2 separate regions of the Homo sapiens genome follow, and region 1 is linked to region 2. Evidence: fine-mapped QTL for protein levels in blood plasma. A gene starts in region 2. The other region holds a variant in brackets. All regions are shown on one strand. Distances are from middle to middle.

The links. PIP is the posterior inclusion probability: the model's chance that the variant is causal. The UK Biobank Pharma Proteomics Project read protein levels with antibody pairs (Olink). The fine-mapping took linkage between variants from a reference panel, not from the people measured, so its PIPs are less certain.
Region 1: its variant is fine-mapped to the plasma level of the MAP2 protein (UK Biobank, PIP above 0.99).

Annotation. Positions count from the first base shown.
Region 1 is chr2:209,491,283-209,500,266 of GRCh38, forward strand. All of the region lies in intron 1 of MAP2 (microtubule associated protein 2), which reads left to right. Among named protein-coding and RNA genes, the nearest start is that of MAP2, 72 kb to the left of the region's middle. RefSeq lists an enhancer at 3,697-4,896. The variant G/C (reference allele first, on the strand shown) is at 4,861.
Region 2 is chr2:209,420,237-209,429,220 of GRCh38, forward strand. MAP2 (microtubule associated protein 2) reads left to right here and starts at 3,811. Exons shown (of 16, transcript NM_001375505.1): 1 at 3,811-4,040. RefSeq lists a silencer at 3,492-3,881.

The sequences.
Region 1 (8,984 bases), 71 kb after region 2:
ACACAGCTAAAGCAGTGTTTAGAGGGAAATTTATAGCACTAAATGCCCACAGGACAAAGTGGGAAAGATCTAAAATTGACATCCTAACATCACAATTAAAAGAACTAGAGAAGCAAGAGCAAACAAATTCAAAAGCTAGCAGAAGACAAGAAATAACTAAGATCAGAGCAGAAATGAAGGAGAGAGAGACATGAAACACCCTTCAAAAAAATCAGTGAATCCAGGAGCTAGTTTGTTTGAAAAGATTAACAAAATACATAGACCACTAGCCAGACCAATAAAGAAGAGAGAAGAATCAAATAGACACAATAAAAATTGATAAAAGGGAGATCACCACTGATCCCACAGAAATACAGACTGCCATCAGAGAATACTATAAAACACCTCTACACAAATAAACTAGACAATCTAGAAGAAATGGATACATTTCTGGAAACATACACCCTCCCAAGACTAAATCAGGAAGAAGTCGAATCCCTGAATAGATCAATAACAAGTTCTGAAATTGAGGCAGTAATTAATAGGCTACCAACCAAAAAAAACCCAGGATCAGATGGATTCATAGCCAACTTATACCAGAAGTACAAAGAGGAGCTGTTACTATTCCTTCTGAAACTATTCCAAACAATAAAAAAAGAGGGACTCCTCACTAACTCATTTTATGAGGCCAGCATCATCCTGATAACAAAACCTGGCAGAGACACAACTAAACAAGAACATTTCAGCCCAATATCCCTGATGAACATCAATGCGAAAATCCTCAATAAATACTGGCAAACCAAATCCAGCAGCACATCAAAAACTTATCGACTATGATCAAGTTGGCTTCATCCTTTGGATGCAAGGCTGGTTCAACATATGCAAATCAATAAATGTAATCCATCACATAAAACCAATGACAAAAAACACATGATTATCTCAATGGATGCAGAAAAGGCCTTTGATAAAATTCAAAACCCCTTCATGCTAAAAGCACTCAATAAACTAGGTATTGATGAAACATATCTCAAAATAATAAGAGCTATTTATGGCAAACCCACAGCCAGTATCACACTGAATGGGCAAAAGCTGGAAGTATTCCATTTGAAAACTGGCACAAGAAAAGGATGCCCTCTCTCACCACTCCTATTTAACATAGTATTAGAAGTTCTGGCCAGAGCAGTCAGGCAAGATAAAGAAATAAAGGGTATTCACTTAAGAATAGAGGAAGTCAAATTATCTCTGTTTGCAGATGACATAATTCTATATTTAGAAAACACCATCGTCAGGCCCAAAATCTCCTTAAGATGATAAGCAACTTCAGCAAAGTCTCAGGATACAAAATTAATGTGGAAAAATCACAAGCATTCCTATACACCAATAATAGACAGACACAGAGCCAAATCTTGAGCAAACTCCCATTCACAATTGCTATAAAGAGAATAAAATACCTAGGAATAAAGCTTACAAGGATGTGAAGGACCTCTTCAAGGAGAACTACAAACCACTGCTCAAGGAAATAGGAGAGGACACACACAAATGGAAAAACATTCCATGCTGATGGATAGGAAGAAACAATATCATGAAAATGGCCATACTGCCCAATGTAATTTATAGATTCAATGCTACTCTCATCAAGCTACCACTGACTTTCTTCACAGAATTAGGAAAAAGCTACTTTAAATTTCATACAGAACCAAAAAAGATCCTGTATAGCCTAAGCAAAAAGAGCAAAGCTGGAGGCATCATGCTACCTGATTTCAAACTATACTACAAGGCTACATTAACCAAAATGTTATGGTACTGGTACCAAAACAGATACATAGACCAATGGAACAGAACAGAGGCCTCAGAAATAATGCCACACATCTACAACCACCTGATCTTTGACAAATGTGACAAAAACAAGCAATGGGGAAAGGATTTCCTATTTAATAAATGGTGTTGGGAAAACTCGCTAGCCATATGCAGAAAACTGAAACTGGACCCCTTCGTTACACTGTATACAAAAATTAATGCAAGATGGATTAAAGATTTAAACATAATACCTAAAACCATAAAAACCCTAGAAGAAAACCTAGGCAATACCATTCAGGACATAGGCATGGGCAAAGACTTCATGACTAAAACACCAAAAGCAATGGCAACAAAAGCCAAAATTGACAAATGACAAATGTGATCTAATGAAACTAAAGAGCTTCTGCACAGCAAAAGAAACTGTCATCAGAGTGAACAGGCAACCTACAGAATGGGAGAAAATTTTTGCTATCTATCCATCTGACAAAGGGCTAATATCCAGAGTCTACAAGGAACTTAAACAAATTCACAAGAAAAAACAATCCCACCAAAAAGTGGGCAAAGGATATGAACAGACACTTCTCAAAGTAAGACATTTATGTGGCCAACAAACATATGAAGAAAAGCTCCTCATCACTGGTCATTAGAGAAAAGCAAATCAAAACCACAATGAGATACCATCTCATGCCAGTTAGAATGGTGATCATTAAAAAGTCAGGAAACAATAGATGCTGGAGAGGACATAGAGAAATAGGAATGCTTTTACACTGTTGGTGGGAATGTAAATTAGTTCAACCATTGTGAAAGACAGTATGGCGATTCCTCAATGATCTAGAACCAGGAATACCATTTGGCCCAGCAATCCCATTACTGGGTATATACCCAAAGGATTATAAATCATTCTACCATAAAGACACATGCACTTGTATGTTTATTGCAGCACTCTTCACAATAGCAAAGACTTGGAACCAACCAAAATGCCCATCAATGTTAGACTGGATAAAGAAAATTTGGCATACATACACCATGGAATATTATGCAGCTATAAAAAAGAACGAGTTCATGTCCTTTGCAGGGTCATGGATAAAGCTGGAAACCATCATTCTCAGCAAACTAACACAGGAACAGAAAACCAAACACCACACATTCTCACTGATAAGTGAGAGTTGAACAATGAGAACATGGGCACAGGGCAGGGAACATCACACACCGGGGCCTGTTGGGGAGGTTGGGGGCAAGGAGAGGGATACCATTAGGAGAAATACCTAATGTAGATGACTGTTTGATGGGTGCAGCAAACCACCGTGGCCCATATATACCTATGTAACAAACCTGCATGTTCTGCCCAGGTATCCCAAAACTTAAAGTATAATTAAAAAAAAAAAAAAGCCAGCTAAATCCCACTGAAACCAAGATGGTTATGAGAGTGACCTTTGGTCATCCTCACTGCTATAGTCCTACCAGCGCCATGACAGTTTACAAATCCCATGGCAATATCATGAAGTTACCCTGTATGGTCTAAAAAGGTGAGGCATGAATAATTTACCCCTTGTTAGGATATAATCGAGAAATAATCATACAAATGGACAACCAACAGCCCTCAGGGCTGCTATGCCTATGGAGTAGCTATTCTTTATTCCTTTACTTTCTTAATAGACTTGCTTTCACTTTAAAAAACAAATAAATAAATATTGCCATCTTCCAAAGTTTTTGTCCCACTGAAAACACAGAAAGAACTAAAAGAGATTGAGATATTTTCATTTCAAAAATTTATCATTGGTTTTCAGGTTTCTTCAAAGCATGTTTTCCCCTATTGTTTCTGCCTGAATTTGAATATGCCAGAACTCCTTAGAGAATTATATAGGTAGGAAAATCTGTCAGTGCTCTAAACTTAAAAACAGAAGATGAAAAAATAATATATGCTGGCCATATATGTGTATATATTCCACCTTATCTGTGATTTTTGTTATTTCTTTGCCTTAATAAAAGACATCGGTAAACAAAGCCACCCGAAGTTTGGACTGGGCGGAGCCCAGCACAGTGCCGTAAGCTGCTGTAGCCAGACTGCCTCTGTAGATTCCTCCTCTCTGGACAGGGCATCTCTGAAAGAAAGGCAGCAGCCCTAGTCAGGGGCTTGTGGATAAAACTCCCATCTCCCGGCGACAGAGCACCTGGGGGAAGAGGGGGATGTGGGTACAGCTTCAGCCGACTTAAACGTTCCTGCCTGCCAGCTCTGAAGAGAGCGGCAGATCTCCCAGCACAGTGCTCGAGCTCTGCTAAGGGACAGACTGCCTCCTCAAATGAGCCCCTGACCCCCGTGCCTCATAACGGGGAGATACCTCCCAGTAGGGGATGACAGACATCTCATACGGGAGAGCTCCGGCTGGCATCTGGTGGGTGTCCCTCTGGGACAAAGCTTCCAGAGGAAGGAGCAGTCAGCAATCTTTACTGTCCTGCAGCCTCTGCTGGTGATACCCAGGCAAAGAGGGTCTGGAGTGGACCTCCAGCAAACTCCAGCAGACCTGCAGAAGAGGGACCTGACTGTCAGAAGGAAAACTAACAAACAGAAAGGTACTGGATATTCAATCTTTATAAGCTTAGTTTTCTCCTAGGAATAAAAATAGTATCTGCTGTGTTTGGCCTTTGTGAGGATTAAATCAATAATGCATCTGACAAACTTTGTAGAATGATTGAGTTGTATTAAACACTTAATACTCATTTCCTATAATTGTTACTCATTTCCTATAATTGTTGTTTTGTATTAGAATGGTACTCTAGCCTTCATAAAACAAATTCCATGATTTAGACATTTGAAAGTTCTTCATTTTCAACTGACATTTATTTCTAGTTACTGCATCACCTAGTCATTTTATGTTCAGTGTTGTGACAGCAAATGGGTGAAATAGTTTCAATTTCCCAGCATGTAACTGGCCTTTTTAGCCTTAACTTTCTTTTCCAGCATTGTTACGGCAGCTACAGCAAACATGTCAGAGTACAGAACATTCCATTAAGAGCCTTATCTCATGCCTCGCTTCCTATGATGTTTTGTATGAATAATACAATGTCTAGAGGTGAAATTAGTTG[G/C]AGTGCTCATGACTCAGCCTCTTTTTCTGGGGAGTGAGTCATTCCACATTTATAGATTCCTGACTTTGTGCCGTATACCACACTAAGTGCTTGGAATACAAACATAGATTTGCTGGGTCATTGACCCAGAGCAGCCCACAGTCTGGGCAGGCAGGGTATGGCATTCATTAAGAACAATATGGGCTTACACATAGCCAGCACTCTATTAATGTTATATCTACCTGTCAAGGCAAAGTGTGATTAAATATACAATAATATGAGCTGTCTAGACAACTTAATTCTATGTTTTGGAACATGTACCTCTGACCCTATAGCCCTATATTGGTATATTTTGCCTAATTATATCACCACAAATTTAACTCCTTTATTGTTTTGTTTGGATACTGAGTTTTTATTCCTTTGCATATCACGTAAAATCATACCCTCCATGAATAGGTCAGTTGCCTGATGAATACCTTTCCTTTATTATCCTGCCAGAAACTCACACTTAATGTGTCTAATAAAGCCCATTATCCTCTACTTTTACCCAGCAACCTGATCTCCCTTCAGGCTTTCCTGTTTCTAAGAATGTACTGGGAGTCTGTTTTTCTTACACTCTCAAAATTCTCTTGGCTCCTTTCTTCATCCTGTGCCTTTCCTGGCCAATGAATCCTTAAATTCTTTTTTTGTGTGTGTGAGACAGGGACTCTGTTGCCAAGGGTGGATTTCAGTGGTGCAATCATAGCTCACTGTAACCTCATATGCCTCTGGCTTCAGCCTCCCCAGTAGCTAGGACTACAGGTGTGCACTACCATGCCTGGCTAATTTAAAAAAAAAAATTGTTTTTGTAGTGGTCTCTCTATGTCGCTTATGCTGGTTTCAAACTCCTGGCCTCAAGCAGTCTTCTGCCTTGGTCTCCCAAAGTGCTGGGATTAGAGGTGTGAGCCACCATGACTGGCTTTAATCCCTAAATTCTGTATGGACTGTAAATACTGTTATGGACTGAGTTGTGCCCCACCCCATCCATATGTTGAAGTTCTAAGTGCCCGTGTGACTGTTTAAAAATAGGGCTTGTAGCAGGTAATTAAGGTTAAACAAAGTCATCAGAGTGGGGCCCTAATCCAGTAGGGTTGGTGGCCTCATAAGAAGAGGAAAAGAGAGTTCTCTAAATTTCCCCACCCATCTTCATGTCTTTCTTTCTCCGCCATGTGAGGATATAGTGAGAATGTGGCTGTCTACAAGCCAGGAATATAGCCCTCGCCAGAACCTGACCATGTTGGCATGTGATCTCACCCCTCCAACCTCCAGAACTGTGAAAAAGTAAATATCTGTTGTGTAAGCCACATGTCTAGGGCATTTTGTTATGTTAGACTATATTAGGCCATCTCTTGCATTGCTATAAAGAAATACATAGGACTGGAATTTACAAAGAAAAGAGGTTTAATTGGCTCACAGTTCTGCGGGCTATACAGGAAACATAGTGCTGGCATCAGCTCATGGGGAGGACTCAGGGAGCTTTTTCTCCTGGCAGAAAGCAAAGCAGGAGTGGGCACTTCATGTAGTCAAAGCAGAAGCAAGCAATGGAGAGAACAAGAGAGAAAGAGAGAGTAGAATGGGAGGCTCCACATTCTCTTAAATGACCAGATCTCATGAAAACTCACTATCACAAAACAGCACCAAGCCATAAGGGATCACCTCCATGATCCAAACCCCTCCTACTAGGCCCCACCTCCAGCACTGGGGATTACAATTCAACATGAGAATTGGGTGGCGACAAATATGAAAACTATATCATCCTGCATCTGGTCCTTTCCAAATTTCATGTCCTTCTCACATTGCAAAATACAGTCATGCTTTCCCAATGGTTCCCCAATGTCTTAACTCATTCCAGCATTAATTCAAAAGTACAAAGCCTCATTTGAAACAAGGCAAATCCCTTCAATCTACAAGCATGTAAAATCAAAAAGAGTTATTTACTCCCAATATACAATGGGGGTATAGGCACTGGGTAAACATTGATATTCCAAAAGGAAGAAATTGGCCAAAGGAAAGGGGCTAAAGGCCCCATGCAAGTTCAAAACCTAGCAGGGACAGTTATTAAACTTTAAAGCTCCAAAATAATATCTTTTGACTCCATGTCTTACATCCACAGCACACTGGTACAATGAGGGGGCTCCTAAGGCCTTGGTTAGCTCTGCCCTTTTAGCTTTGCAGGGTGCATCCTCCCCATACCCCTCAGATGCTCTCACAGGTTGTTGAGTGCCTGTGGCTTTTCCAGGTGCAGGATACAAGCTGCTGGTCTGAGGTCTGGAGGGTGGTGACCCCCTTCTCACAACTCCACTAAGGAATGCCCCAGTGGAGACCAGATGTGAGGGTTCCAACTTCACATTTCCTCTTGGCACTACCCTAGTAGAGGTTCTCTGTTGGGGCTCTGCCCCTGCAGCAGGCTTCTGCCTGGGCATCCAGGCTTTTCTACACATCCTTTGAAATCTAGGTGGAAGGTGCCAAGCCTCATTCACTCTTGCACTCTGTGCACCCGCAGGCTTAACAACACATGGAGGCTGCCAAGACTTACAGCAGTTTGTGCTCTCCAGAGCAGTGGTATGACAGTGTCTGGGGTCCTTTGAGCACAGGCTGCAGCCAGAGCTTCCAGTGCAGTACAGTATCCTAAGGCTGTGCCAGGCAATGGGGCCCTGGACCTGGCCCACAAAAACATTCTTCCCTCATAGGCCTCTGGGCCTATGATGGGAGGGGCTGCCATGAAGGTCTCTGAAATGCCTTCAAGGCCTTTTTCCCATTATCTTGGCTGTGAGTGTTTGGTGGGGTTTCATTATGCAAATTTCTCTAGCAAGTGGTTGTTCCACAGCCTGCTTGAATTCCTCTCTCAAAAAAAGCTTTTTCTTTCTCTGCCACATGGTTAGATGAAAAATTTTCTAAACTTTTATGCTGTGCTTCCCTTTTAAATATAAATTCCAATTCTTAATCTTTTATTTGCTCCTGCTTCTGAGTGTAGGTTATTAGAAACAGCCAGGCCTCCTCTTGAATGTATTGCTGCTCAGAAATTTCATCTGCCAGATATGCTGTATAGTCACCATGAAGCTCAAACTTCCAAAGACCCCTAGGGTATGGACACAATCCAGCCAAGCTCTTTGCTAACACATAAAACATGTGACCTTTGCCCCAGTTCCCAGTAAGTTCCTCATTTCCATCAGAGACCTCATCAGCCTGGATTTTGCTGTCCATATCACTATCAGCATTTTGGTCACAACAATTTAACTAGTCTCTAAAAAATTCCAAACTTTCCCTCATCTTTCTGTCTTCTTCTGAGCCATCCAGACTCTTCCAACCTCAGCTCATTACCCAGTTCCAAAGCTGCTTTCACATTTCCATGTATCTTTATAGCAACACCCCACTCTTCAGTTCAATGTATTAGGCTGTTCTTACATTGCTATAAAGAAATACCCAAGACTGGGTAATTTATTAAAAAAATAAGTTTAATAGGCTCATGGTTCTGCAATCCATACAGGAAACACAGTGCCGGCATCAGCTTCTGGGGAGGCCTCAGGGGGCTTTTACTCATGGTGGAGAGCAACACAGGAGCAGGCACTTCACATGGTGAAAGCAGGAGCAAGCCAGAAAGAGAGACAGGGGGTGGGGAGGAAAAGGAGAGGGAGAATGCCGGGAGGAGGTGGCACACACTTTTAAGTGACTGGATTTTGTGAGAACTCACTATCATGAAGACAGCACCAAGCCATGAGAGCTCTGCCCCCATTATCCAGTCACCTCCCTCCAGGCCCCACCTCCAACAATAGGGAATAAAATTCAACATGAGATTTGGGTGGAGACAAACATCAGAACTATATCACAGTCTCAGCAGACTAATACACATATCCATGCAATAGTTGTAACACTCTCCTTTATATGGACACTGTCTCCACCTGAATTGTGTCTTCATTACCATTCACCTGGACTTCTGAAGGAGCCACTTTTTTGAACACTTCTTTAAGCACTCCCCTCTCTGATCCAATCTACATAATATTGCCAGATTAAATTTCCTAATTATGCCATTCTTGAATTTAAAACCTTCAGTGGTCCACTTTCACCTACAAAATTAAATATGTTTAATTGAATAGCCTCCTCAGATT
Region 2 (8,984 bases):
GGAAATGGGAGACCATACTACAAAGCTCATTTTTAAATTTTAAAGCCATTGCAATGGTCAAAACTTGTGAAACATGATAGAAATTTTGATAGATGTGCCTCTAGTCATCCATAGAGAAAAGGTCAAGAAATTAAAAACAAAACACAAAAAGCCCATTTCACACATAGAAGGTAAAAGACTTATGTGTGTCTGCTCTTCAGTGTCATACCTGCATCTTGCATCCACATCTTTTCTATGATGGGCTGCACATTGTATCAGCATTGTTTGTGTATGTATGAACCTTGCTCATTGTTTCTCTAGGGGCCACTTAATTAATGTTCATCAACTTAATAAGCAAATCCTCAGCTGAGCTATAATTTCTCATAGCTTTATAAAACTAAAGTGACCTTAGGTGGCATGTGGTTGAGTCTCCTCATTTGCTAATAAAAATATTGAGGTTCAAAATGGTAGAGAGATGTACCCAAGGTCACACAAGCAGGGAACAGCAAATATGGGCCCTCAGATCTGACTTGAAGTCTGGTGCTCTTAACACTATGCAGTACAACCTCCTCAAAGGCTCACCTACTCCTTGACTCTCTGGGGAGAAGGTTTCATTACTTCCTATATACCAGTAGACCTTTCTCTAATCAGTAGAAATACATTTATTCTGATGGTTTTCTGACTGAGAAACTATCAGAAGTCCTGTCCCTGAGAAAAGGGTATGGTTGTTTATGTACGTAATCCTCCGGGCCAAATAAATACAAATCAAGAATTTAGCCTGAAGACAAGACAAGTAATTGTGGAAATCAATATTGGCAGGCTCTTTCTATCTGTGGTTTACTTTTTGGAGTCCAGCACTGTATTAGTCAAGGCTTCTTCAGTTGAAAATGACAGGAATCCAACTACAGCAAGCTTAGAAAAGAAACAAAAATCTATTGGCTTGAAAAATGGCATTTCTACCTTGAGACGTAGCAGGATCCATGGAGTCTTTCAAGTGTTCTTTCTCCATCTCTCAGCATTGCTTTTCTGCATGGAAGGAAATACAGTCACTGACAACTCTATACCTATACCATCCGATTCACTATTGTTCATATGACACATCTCATGGAAAAAAGCCTGATTGGAAATATTTGGGACATATGACCACCCTGTATCAATCACTATACATTAGGAGAACAGGTTCTACTATAGAGTTAGCCAGGGTCACATGTCCACCTCTGAGAAAGAGAAGAGAGGCACACATTTTACTAGCATATGGGGAATCATATGAAAAGGATCATTACTCTAAGGAAGGGATGCTTTGCTGAGGGAAAAAAAAAAGTTCACTTCAACACAAAGATCCCTCCTTAAACCAGAAGCCTAAACATATGGAGTCCCCTCCTAAAGTTGTTTGACATCCCAGGGCACTGACTCCTGCAAACTGTATTTCTTAGGCTGCTTTGTCAACTGACTTTCTTCTAGGTTCACCCAATGACAGGGTTTTGAAATACAGGTTAAAGGAGGGCCACAATATTTCTTTTCACTCTCAGCTTTTGGAGGACCCTCCAGCATTATCTGTCTCCCAGTAAGCATCTCCACTGTGGTCTCAGTTCCTTTAATGTAGCTTGTGCTCCTCATTCCTGGTAAAGCCTCCTCTCTAGCACTCCCCAGCCTGAGAGTGGTAGTACTTTCCTGCTAGTAACTATCATCGTGTTGCCTCATCATCCCCTAGTTGGCTTTTTAGTCATTTGAATCCTTTGTAATTTGTTCCCCATATTAAATTCTCTCTATTGAATTACAACATATAGATGCTATTTTTCTGAAAGAACTCTAAGATGTGTGTCGAGAGGAGGCAATCTCCCATATAAGGACCAGGTTCCCCAAAGAGAAAAGCCATTAGAGTTTGGCTGCCTCAGCTAATCTTAAAGTGGAGGAAAAAACAAACAAACAAACAAACAAACAAAAACAAAAAGTGCTGAGGAACACTGTACTTTAAACTATCAGAGAAATAATGTCTTTTTTATTGCTGTTTTTTAGAGACAGGGTCTCACTCTGTCACCCAGGCTGGAGTGCAGTGGTGTAATCATAACTCACTGCACCCTCAAACTTCTGGCTTCAAGCGATACTCCCTCCTGAGCTGCTGGGATTACAGGTGTGAGCCACCGCTCCTGGCCCTGGAAAATTACTCTCATTGAGCACCTGCGCCTGCATGCCTGGTCATGAATGTCAGCTGCTAACACTCTGGTAGCATGCCTACTCCTTCCTCCCATCCACATACTGTCTATGATTTCCTAGTCTCCTAAGACCTCCTTCTCAGTAAGGCCATCTTCCGAGGAGGAGCATCAACTCCTCCAACCTCCCAGCTCCTGGGTGTGCCTTGATACTTCCAAACTCACTGCAAGCGTCACTGGCACATGGTATGAAGCAGAGCGGGGGAGGCAGGACACAGAGCACTGGGTGTGACTGGGGAGGGCAGGCTTTCACAGCTTCCTCTGTGATGGTTTCTAATCCTTGCAGGCTCCCACCATTGGGTCTCTTTCCATCTGAAAATGGAGGAAATTAGACCAGCTGCCTAAAACATCAACTCTAATGTTCTAGGTTCTAAGATTCTGTGGTTAATTTAAGTGACAGAACCACATTATGGCTGCTGTTTCATCAGCACTGTGAAGACTGTACAAGCCACACCTCAGTATGTTGGCTGACCTTAAAAACACCTTGTCAGTACTTGATATAGACACTCGAAGTAATTCTAAGTTGCATCTTACTTTTCTTACTTACAATAAAATGCTGCTCTCTGATTATGAAGATTCATACTCCTTAGTACGAATGGTAAAGAATCATTTGTTTTCTCAGGTGGTCATTTCACTTTCAAAAGCATTTAAGAGGCAATTTTTTTAAGGGTGATATTTCAAGGTCAACACTTTCCGTGCTTTCTAATTCATTGTATTTGTATCATTCTTCAAAGATCCTTCATATTCATTATCTTTTTAAGCATAAGAGAATTGGGCTGTCATTTTTAGTTCTCATATGACACATGAATACACTGAGAGTTAGATTAAGTGAACTGTCTCTAGAGCATACGTCTGGCTATCTAGAATGTAATAACTATAAAGGGAGGGGATCTTTCTTATTAGGGTTGTGGGAAAGGTCTGTCACTGATGTTTCTAATGCTTAGAAGAGTGCCTGACACATAGTAGGTGTCAATAAACATTCGTTGACTCAATAAATGAATGAATCTAATTCGTGACAGAGCTGGGTCTAGAATTCTCTACTCCCTCAGCCATTGCTCCTTTAGTGCTGACAAGAGTTGTTCTATGTTCTCAAGCGCCCCACATTCCTTTGTCTTTTCTGGATGCACCTGTGGTTGGGTTTGTGAGGCGAGGCCAGTGAGCTTTCCTGGTGAGGTGCCACTGGCAACCCCGCCTCATAGCGACACAGGGGAGGGAAGCAGGGGGTCTGCGGAGGTTGCTCCCGAGAGACTAAAGCTGTTGCCCCCGATTTTCCAAGGACGCCAGTGAGGAAGGCCCGCCTGTCCCGCCGCCCGGGCACTGGCCTCACTTTGTCGCGGGAGGGGACCAGGGCTCTGGAGAAGGCCCGGGCCAGCGGCTGGGCGGGGCTCTCCGAGGCTCCCACCTCGCGGTCCCCGCCTGGCGGCCGGCGGCTGCGGCAGAAGGCGAAGCGGTCGTGCTCCCCCTCCCGGACACTGCGGCGGTGGCAGCGCCAGCCCCGCCGCGGCCGCCCACGGGCTCGCGGAGTCTGGCGGGACCTGCGCGGGGCGGGACCTGCGCGGGGCGGGGAGGAGGGGCCGAGGCGGAGCTGCTGCGCTGGGAGCCGGCTGGGGGCGCCGCTCTCAGTCTGGGGCGGGCGCTCGGGCTGCGCGGGCTCTGGGCAGCAGCAGCAGCAGCAGCAGCATCCTCTCTTCCTTTACTTCCCTTCCGCTTCTTTCTCTTCCTTCTCCTTCTTTTTCCCCCCCCTCCCCTTCTTCCCCTAACCCTTCTACCCCTCTCCTTTTTCTCCGGAGGGCGCTAAGTCCGTGAGCGGTGGCAGTCGCGACCGCGGGTGCATCCAGTTTCTGCGCCCAGGTAAGAGACCGTCCCCACCTCTGGCTCTATGTAGGGCGCCTCTCCTTTTGCCTCGGTCTCTGAGTAGAAAGAGATAGGAATGGGGAGGGGTTGTGTCTCGTCCTCTGGGACTCGCAGCAGGCAGTCTGGTAGTTGGTCGAGTGGCCAGCCGTGCACCTGGCGGAAGATTCGGGCCTGTCCTCTCCAGGTGTCACTGCGGAGCAGGGGGCCGGACGCTACTGGTACCTGAGCCCTGGCTTCGTAGAAGAGCGAGTGAGCTTGTTAGGTACCACTTTGAAACAACTGAAAACTTACGCCAGGTTAGAATACGTGTATCGAAAGCCAGTATTACCTGCGCTGTGGAAAGAAGGGGAGTGGATTCTACAAAGATAGTGGAAAATAGGAAATCGAGGTAGGGGATTTTTTTGTTCATCCAGCTGCAGAGAACTGCACACTGGGAAGTGAGTGAGTGAGGGAAGCCTTGTCCATTTCAAATCATGTTTCTCTGTAATTCCTTCAGAAACAGCTGGGAGAGGAGGACTGATATTTATAATTGTAGGAAAATGAAAAATAAATGCCTGGTGGTGTTGGAGGGCGGGGCACGAAGAAATGAGTCTGGTTAGGCTTCCACACAGTCGTTTTTCTTTTTAAACGTTGGGGGTGGACCTCTGAATCTACAGTGCATCTATTCTTTTCTTCCTTTTCTTTTTAAAAGGCTTTTTTGGTGGGGAGAGGAGGACTGCAGTGCTGGCTGCCTGCCTTCCCCCACCTCGTCTTTTGTTTAAGGATGGAAATTTCAAGAAAGAGTGTGTGGGGGGCTAGGAGTGGGGAGCTGTATATTTGGGTGTGTATAGGGGGAGGGGTATGGATGGAGTCAGAAAAAAAATCCTTGAAAACTGGAAATTAATGTTATTCTGCCTGGCATCCGGACTTCAGGATTTTTGTCAGAAAATAAAAAGCTTTCATTAGCAACAAGCCCGTTTGTGACAATTGCTGTGTGCCATCTGTCGTAAGCTCTTAGCACAATGCTTCCAGGACATAGACGCTTTAAAATTGAGTCCGGTGTAAAGGGTTTTTGTTTAAATGCCTAAACACACAAGTATGCACACAAATGTATAATACACTATATACATGTTACAAAAGGAAATAGGTACTTAAGAGACTGATTTTTTAAAATTGTATTTGAGGGTTTGGAAATTATGTTGTGAATAAAATCTGTAGTGCAAAACAAAAAAATATTGTTGGGTGGTATATAATTTTGGGTGTGAGGCAAAGGGATTGATGACTGTTGGTAAGGAACTAATTTAAATGTTAAAGGTATAATTTATTTTAAAATGATCAGTCTAGAAAAGGAAATGATTGCAAACTGAAATTGAGGTTTGCAGCCACAGTGAGGCGATGGAGAACAAAGCCTTCTATGTGAGCCACATTATGCAAAATGTCCCATGCATGAGCTGCAGGTACCAGCCCAGTTCAAAAGCATAGTTCTTTCACTATGTCATTTCACTGTGGACAATTATGATTTTTTTTGGCAGTCAAATAGATTGAATAAATAGAAGCCCTTTAGAATGCTTTTAATTTTATGCCCAGGGAAAAGATTACAGCCTTCCATCAGAATATAACACAAAGCAGCCCTTTAACCGGGCAATAGGTGTATTTTGGTAGAAATCCTTGTGAATTTGCAAATCATGGATGTTCCAAAAGCCCCAGCCCCATGCACACAAAGAACCCTTCCTTCAAGAAAAAAGGCATTTTTCTCATTCAGTAAGGATTATTATATTTGTGTGTGTATGTTTATGTTGATTTCCTGGTAATTTCATCTGATTATCATAGGTGTACATCTGCATTCATGATTTGTATATTATCAGAGCCATTGTGGCTTTAGGATCAGTGGTACATGCTGTTTATCTGTGGTTTATTTAATTTTAATTTTTCATATTTTACAGTTTGCTACAATATTATTTAATGTCCAAAGTTTTCTTTTTTAAAACCATAAGTAGAAAATTGCTTAACACACATCTGAAGATCTAAGTAATTTAAAAATAGAGCTACCTTTTATAAAATAATATTTTAGTTATATTAATTTTTATTTTATTTATCTCCTCTCTTATTTTTTTCCCTTTTCTAATCAAATAACCTGTTTCTTTATGGCTGCTTTAGTCTTCTATACTGCCATAGGAGGGCCAGTGTTTTCAAGAATTTTGAATTTAGGATTGTTCATTCTCTGCAGCACCTCTCAGGATGACTTGTTTACAGCACCTTCTCAGGGAGGAGACAGGGAAAGAATGTGCTGAAAGAGCATGACCCAGTGAAACTGGCACAGCCATTACCTCATCCTAGTAGGTACTTCAGATTCATTGAGAGAGCAGGCATCCTCTCAGTGGAAACCAAACACCAGGAGCACACCCATCTCAGGGCAAAAGCCTTTCTCTTCCCATAGCAGCCTTTACTAATGTCATTCCACTGAGGTTAAAGGGATATTTTCTCTTTTATGTATTCCTTTTCAGGGATCTTGAACTTGGTTAGAAATATGTAGCCAGAAATGAAACTTGGCACAGAATCCTCTAAGCCTGAAGGAATAATTTCATTCCTTTACCCCTTTTGGTTTAAACCAGTTCGCAAATTTTCTAAACATCAGAAGGGAAAAGGAAGAAAAATGTTGGTGTATTTTTGTGTATTTTCTTATCACACACACATATTTTGTATTGAATTTTACTAGCAGTTAGACAACAGACTGGACATGCTATTAACAAATGTAGTTGCACTGTTGGCATTTTAAAAAATCATTATTACATTTGCTTATAGGACAATAGGTGCATCCTTCAGTGATTCATTGATGTCCTTTTGAGACTGACCATATGAAACTGACATGGGGATTTTAGTATTCAAGTTGGTAACTCTGATTATTGAATCCTTTCAATACTTAATTTCCTCTTAACAGATTAAGATAAAGAATCTGAAATAATAGTTACAGTAGAAGATAGCACCACCCCCAGATCAATACTATCCTCCTTAATGCTAAAAGTAGTCACTTTAGGTAAGTCATTAGTAAATGCATGAACCTGAAGATAACAGTTTTGAAACAATCTCAAATTTTTTTGTCTCTGTTATAGATTAGTTAAAGATGCTAATAAACTCTTTGAGTCATATCTGATTCTCTCAGATATATCAAGTGTTTTTGCTACTTTAATTATCTCTTTACTATTGCCATTACCTTTATCTACTCAATCTAGACCTTTTCATGTAAGGACTGTATTTTGATCATTTCACCATATTTTCCCTCCCTTCACATCATTCTTTTTAATTCGACATTTGGATGTTAGACTTACTGTTCTCTAGCTATTTTGGTTTCAGTAATGTTACTCTCTTGATACAAATTTGGCCTTTATTTTTCATTAAGGAGAGCACTTATTACCATTTATGTATTTATTTATTCATTATGAGAAACAACTTTTGATATTCTCAGTTTTCAATTGCAGAAAATGATTCTAGGCACCAAAAGCAGTTAAAAGTCTGCAAATTAATATGTAGTACACAAAAGGCCAAAGTCAAGGGAGACAGTCTGTATGAAGGTTTGGGTGGGTGGGTAGGTGGGTGGGCGTAGAGGAAGATGTGGAATGAAAGCAAATTCTCAGCTATTAAAAGCTGTCCATGTAGGGTAGAGATGAGCCTTTTTGTCTAAGAGGGTGAAGAAGGAATAAATGTTTTGTTTTTCTGTTTCAACATATTTTGTCCCCATCCCTCCCCTGTCATGTCTTTGAACTAAGGCCATGGTGCTTCCTTATAAAAATTATACAGTATGTTTATTGGAAGGAGTTTTACAGTGAATTAGGTGAATTCAGAATTTTAAAATGATGTGAACACAATTAGATGAATTTTTATGAAAAACACTTTGAATCTAATCTTTGATCTTTCCTGTTCAAGACATAAGCTTTCCTTTGAATGGTAGTACTTTAACTGTAATACATTTTACTTAAACATTTCAGTAAAATTCTATGGAAAGTTAGACAAAATAAAGAGCTCAGGATCCTCTTTCAGTCTACTGTTAAGTTTATATTGTGGAAGTTGGGGAAAGTTTTAGACAGTTTGTTTTCCGTTAAAACACACACTAGAGGGGGCAAATTTCTTTTTTTTTTTTTTTGCTTTTTGTTATGTTAATGAGCAAATAATTTACTTTTAAGATCACATACCTTGACTTTTTTCTTTCCTTTTTTGTCTTCTTTCCATTCTCCTCTTTCCCTTTTCTTTTCTTCTTTACTTAGATTGCTCCTTTCTTTCAGTTTGTATTGGCAAAATAAACATTGGTCTTTAGAAAATGAAATTATAGCCTGATATTCTTATTGAAATTTATTTTTCATTATATTTATATTTCTCATTTAACATGAAGTTTTATGCTAACCTCTCCTCCTTCTCAAGGCTCCATCCCTATCTTGGTCCTTTCTTTGAACTTGGCTTTTATATCCCCTAGGCTTCAACAGTTTTTTCCTTGTATACCAATCTTTCATAACGCTTTGTACCTCAAAAAGGCCTTTAAAAACCAGAAGAAAAGTTACTACCCTATTTCTCCCGATTAGTTTGTATCCAAGTTTATTCAGGTTCCCTTAGGTTATAGGTAATTGCTCGCCTCAATGTGTCCTCATTAGCCTTCTTTGAATTACTTTATTTTATTTTATTTATTTATTTATTTATTTATTTATTTATTTATTTATTTATTTTGAGACGGAGTCTCGCTCTTTCGCCCAGGCCGGAGTACAGTGGCGCCATCTCGGCTCACTGCAAGCTCCGCCCCCCGGGTTCACGCCATTCTCCTGCCTCAGCCTCCCGAGTAGCTGGGACTACAGGCGCCCGCCACCGCTCCCGGCTAATTTTTTGTATTTTTAGTAGAGACAGGGTTTCACCTTGTTAGCCAGGATGATCTCGATCTCCTGACCTCGTGATCCGCCCGCCTCAGCCTCCCAAAGTGCT